Regions from separate parts of the Homo sapiens genome. Here region 2 is linked to region 1. Evidence: fine-mapped expression QTL. Tissue or cell type: whole blood. Region 1 holds a variant in brackets; the other region holds the start of a gene. All regions are shown on one strand. Distances are between the middles of the regions.

Region 1 (2,754 bases):
GTCATCTTTAGTGCTGTTTGCAAATATTTCCAGTGCTCTCTCTGTCTGAGAAGATCATAGAATGCATTTTCTGGGCCTCTTATGGTTAAGTGGGGCCATATTCTAGCCAGTGAGCTGACAGACAAAGAGACACATCTCACTTCCTGGCCAGGGCATTTAATTACTGGTGCAAGCCCTTCAAGAGCCATTTCCCTCTCCGCCATAGTGACCAGGCATGTCCCAACAGTGGCTGCTTCATCAGCTGGTCTAGGAGGGAAGACAGCATGATGGAAAGTCCCAGCCAACCTGCTGGATAAGTAGCAAGAGTGGAAATAACCCTTTATTGTTTTAAGCTGCCAAGGTTTTAGGGCTGTTCATTATGGCAACAGAATCAAGCCTATCCTAAGAACAGAAATTATGGAGGGAATATTTTACTCGTGAAAATCACTTTGCACTCCATCTCCCTGTTTTGTGGCCAAAACACTTGCTAAAGGGGAGTGCAACTGGCGCAGTGCTGAATACATTATAGGTGCCCAGAGGGTGGTTTATGATTGACTGGTGAACACCTTATTTTTTTATGCTACAGATTTGCTTTCATCAGACCTATAAGGTCTCCACTTAGCTATTTTTAGAACATAAATTGGAGAGGACTGCTTTGTAGTGACAGTAATATAAAAGTAGGTAACTTGGAGTCCGTTCATTTTGAAACCAATTGGACAGCTCACATTCAGGTACCACAGCAGAAGAGTTATAAGAAAAGATGAGGATGGAGAAAGAAGGCTTGACAAGTTTAAATGCTGCTGGCAGAAATACTCTGAGGGGATCCCAGCCGTCTCAAAATTCACTGCATGATGAGTGTTGAAGGGAGACAGATGCTTTTTAGCATCAATTCCCAGTGGCTTTGTTTTCTATAGAGTAGAGAAGGGACCTAGGAAGGTCATTATATTAAATTGTTGCAGGTCAAGTTCAAAGTCATCCATTCTTGTAGGTATTCTTCTTATTTTACCAAGTATGTCCCTGCCTGGTATGTATTACCATCCCAAAAGCTTCACAGTTTGCAGCTTATCCTCATTTCATTTTGATTTTAATATAGACTGTGTTACACTTGTCTGTTTCCTAAGAACAATGAACACGTGGAGATAAGGCAGAGTGGGGCAGCATGATCAGATTTGCATTTTGAAACAAGTCTACAGTGCGCAGAATGCACAGTAGGATGCAGGAGTGGCTGTGGATAGACAGGAGGCTGTTACAGACTCTAGGTGATAGGTGATGATAGCTTGAGCAAGGTAGTGGTAAAGAGGGAGAAGTGGACAGATACCTGAGATGCTGAGGAATTAAAATAACTTGCGGATGCTTTGGATACTGGAAACAAGTGAAAAGATAGCACAAACACAGTTATGAGGTTCCTGTGGCCTGAACAACGGGATAAAGGTGCCATTCATGGAGCTGGGTTGAACGGTGGCCTCCCAAGAGACATGTCCACCCAGAACCTGTGAGTGTGGCCTTATTTTTAAAAAGGGGTCTTTGCAGATGTAATTAAGG[A/G]TTTTGAGGTGAGATCATCCTGGGTTATTCTGAGTCCTTCTAAGAGAAACGCAGAGGGAGATTTGAAACACAAGAGGAGAAGAGAAAGCCACATGAAGATGGAGAAACAGATTGAAGTTATGTGGCTGCCAGACAAGAACCAGTGGAGCCACCAGAAGTTGGAAGAACAAAGGAAGGATCCTCCCTTCAGTCTGGCCTTTGGAAGGAGGCCAACTCTTGAAACTTGGTTTCAGACTTCCTGTCTCTAGAACTGTGAGAGAATATATTTCTGTTGTTTTAAGCCACTGAGTTTGTGGTTATTTGTTACAGTAAGCCCTAGGAAACAAATACACTAGAGAACACAAGAAAAAAAAAACAGGTTTGGGGTGAAAATAATGAGTTCAGTTTTGAACATATTGAGTTTGAAGTACCTTGGAGACATCAAGAAGAAATGTCAAATGGGTCAATATGTACACAATTCTGGGCTACAGAAGTCAGTTGGTGAGTCATATGCATTGAGATGGTAGTTGAAACAAGGACTTGGGTAAGGTCACCAAAAAAGAGAAAATCAGAGTGAGAAGGGAAATCTTAGGACCAAGCCCCGAGGAGCTCCAACGTCAAAGGGATGAATAGGAGAAGGTAATCCCACACAAGCACTAGAGAAGGGGCAGCTACAGAAACAGGAATTGAAACAGGAGAGCATTGTCTTAGAAAGTAAGGGAAGAGGGGGTTTCAGAAAGGATGGAGCAGTCACCAGCATTCAAAATTAAGAGAACACAGGGACTAAAAAATGTTCATTGAGTTTCATGAAGTCACCGGCAACACCAGCAACAGTTAGTCAAGTAATTCTGCCAAAAGCTATCTTGGAGTGTACTGACAAGTGACAACAGACAGCTTTTTTTTTCTTTTGAGGAGGGAGGGTATTTGGAAAAATAAATAAAGGAGATAAATAAAATGATACATATTGCAAAGAGAAGGGAAGTGGAGGTTTGGTTTTGTTTTGTTTGTGTTTTTGCTGGTTTGCTTCTGTGGGAAGAGTCTTGAGTCCACTGAAAGGCTGTTGGGAATGATGCAGTTGAGTTGAGAGGTTGACTGTGCAACAAAGGGGTAATAATCAATTTACCCCTCTCAGACTGGCTCTCAATAATCTGAGAAAAAGGATCGAAATGGGAACCAAAGCACAGGTGGAAGTATCGCATCTCCACTGCTACAGCAGAAAAGGATGACAGGGTGGTGCAGATGAATGGGTAGAAG
Region 2 (2,612 bases), 160 kb before region 1:
TGGACACCGCCAGCTCCTGCGCCTTCTGGCGCGTCTTTTGCAGCTCCTGCCGCAGGTTCTGCGAGTCCGCCGAGCCACCGACGGTCAGCACCAGGTGGTGGTAGCACGCAGTCGTCTTGTTGAGCCCGTCCAGCAGCGCCTTGCACTCCTCCCTCGCCATCGCGGTGGGCTCCGGCTGGGCCCGGCCGCCCGCGCCCGTTAGCCTCCCCCTCAGCGCGGCAGGATGTGGCTAACCCCCATCCCGGCCTTGGGCCGCGCGGCACGAACGCTCTTCATGGTCCGTGACTCGCTCGGCGCTACCGCCAACGTCCACGGAGCCCGCCCGGGACCCTCGACGTGCGCCTCTGCGGACGGGGCGCGCAGAGGGAGCCCCGTTAGCGGTCCCCCGCTCCCTCGTCCATCCTCCCCAGGCGCACTCCGAGTCACACGTCGTGTCTCTGCACCGCCCTGGCCTCCACGGTGGCTCCCTGCGAAGCTGAGGGTGCGGTCCCCATCCTCCGTGGGTGCCAACTCCGGGGCAAGCAGGCTGCAGAGCCGCGCGCTCCGCCTTAGGCGCTGCCAAGGGCGGCCGGGTAGGGTTTCCTAGGACCCGCCCACCCCGCTCGTCCCGGCCGGAGCTGCCACCCCCTGGATCAGTGGTAGGCGGGGCTCCACGCGGGGAGGTCACGTGTGGGTGGCCCATCCCTCCCTCCCCTTCGCCCCATCCGAGTTCTGGAATGTTAGCGCTCGGGAGATCCAACCCGTTCTATTTTACGGATGGGGAAACTGAGGCCCAGGTAAAAAGCGGGCCAGGCTCCCGCGGAGTTTTTGCCTGTGATGGGACTAGAACCCAGCTATACTGACTCCCGGACCCTGTCGGCGACAGGACGTCGGGTGCCCCGCAGGACTGGGCACCTCCGTGCCCCAAAGCGAGCAGTGACTGGCAATCCGAGGGGCTGGGCGCCGCCGGGGTCAGGTGTCCCTGCCGCGTTGCGCTCACGTTGGTCGGTGCTTCCAAGCGCTAACCCCACCTCTAGTGTCAGCCCGGCTCCCAGCCCCGCCCCTCACGTTCTGGGCACGCGCAGTTGCGGGCGTGGGGCGGGGCCAGCTGGAGTAGGAAGCGTAGGGAGCCGCCTGAGCCCCGCCCCCGGCTGGGCTGGACTCCATGATTGCTCTGCGTACACGTCACTCTGGGAAACGACGGTTTCTCATTGGGTCAGCTGTGGCGCGGCTCCGCCCCACGGCGGAGTAAGGGGTGGGCTATAGGGCCAGATCGCCGCGCGAGGGTGGTGGGCATCGAGGTCCCAGCAGCGGACGAGGGAGGTGCCGCCGTCGCCCAGGATGGGCTGGGAATGAAGCGATGTAGCCTTTTAAGTAAGTGTCCTCGCGCTGGCCTCCTCCTGCGCCTCCCCTCCCGCGGGATGGCTGCGCCTCGGGGCGCGGCGGCCGGGCGGGGCCCGGAGAGTGAGGGGGGAGGGGCTCCCTGCTCTCCGGAGTCCGCTCCCGGGTCCGCCAGGTGGCCCCGCGCCGCCCCAGCCCCCGCGTCCCCAGGTGGGTGCCCGGTGCGCAGCCGGCGCGCCCTGCCCACTCCGCCCCTCGGGTCTGGAGGAGGGGAGCGGTCGGCGCGGAGAATGCACCCTCCGAGCCTCGCTGCGTCGACACCGGCGGGTGTGGCCGGGGTGCCGGGTCCGGCGGTTCGGATCTGGCGGGGCGCGGGGCGGTCGCCGCGCGGTTTCCCGGAGGCCTAGGGTCTGCTGGAGGGGAGCGGCGGGTGGGGGTCCGAGCCGCGCGCGCAGCGGTTGTGGTTTCCGGGGGGTGATGAGGGCGCGGAGCGGGGAATCCCTGGCTGCCGGCCTCTCGCAGGGCGGGGGGGTCTCTGCATTCCCACAGGTAAAGATTGTTAAAGGAAAACTCTTAAGCACCGAGAGATGTTCCGGATTCTGAGTCTGTTCCGTCTTGTGGTTGAAAATGGACTGCCCAGGAGCACACGAGCCACGCGGTGCCCCCTTGGCTGCCCCACGAGGTGCAGGGGACGTGGGCACTCGCGGCCTGTGCTGGGCGAGGGAGCAAGGGACGGGTCTTCGCTGAGGATTTAGAGCATGCAGGGAACGAGGGCTGCTGGCAGTGCTGGAGGGACTGTGAGGCTGCAGAGAGCTCAGATTTTACAAGTTGATGGGTTTCATGGATAGAGGCCCCTATTTTGATTAAAAAATGCACTCTTCCCACTGGCCGAAGAGTAGAGCAGTGGATATTTTTTTTCTTTTCTTTCTTTTCGTTTTTTTCTTTTTGAGACAGGGTCTGGCTCTGTTGGCTAGTCTGGAGTGCAGTGATGCCATCATAGCTCATTGCAGCCTCAAACTCCTGGACTCAAGCAATCCTTTCACCTCAGCCTCTGTAGTAGCTGGGACTACAGGCGCATGCCACTATGCACGGCTAATTTTTAATTTTTTTTTTTTTTTTTTGTAGAGATGGAGTCTAGCAGGTTGCCTAGGCTGGTCTTGAACTCCTGGACTCAAGCCATGCTCTCGTCTTGGCCTCCCAAGGTGTTGGGATTACAGGCACTAGCCACCACGTTTTGCTGAGCAGTAGCTGTTACGTTTCGAGATCAGCCTGGCATGAGGACTGGTGTTGAG

Evidence for each region. PIP is the estimated chance that this variant, and not a neighbour inherited with it, causes the effect.
Region 2: ANKRD27 starts here. The variant in region 1 is fine-mapped to the expression of ANKRD27 in whole blood (TOPMed, PIP above 0.99).

The regions. Positions count from the first base shown.
Region 1 is chr19:32,518,217-32,520,970 of GRCh38, reverse strand. No RefSeq gene overlaps it. Among named protein-coding and RNA genes, the nearest start is that of PDCD5, 62 kb to the left of the region's middle. The variant A/G (reference allele first, on the strand shown) is at 1,522.
Region 2 is chr19:32,673,812-32,676,423 of GRCh38, reverse strand. ANKRD27 (ankyrin repeat domain 27) reads left to right here and starts at 1,244. Exons shown (of 29, transcript NM_032139.3): 1 at 1,244-1,353. It overlaps RGS9BP (regulator of G protein signaling 9 binding protein), which reads right to left and starts at 576. Exons shown (of 1, transcript NM_207391.3): 1 at 1-576. The coding sequence starts at 160. RefSeq lists silencers at 330-389, 960-1,689, 1,710-1,759 and enhancers at 700-809, 697-1,316.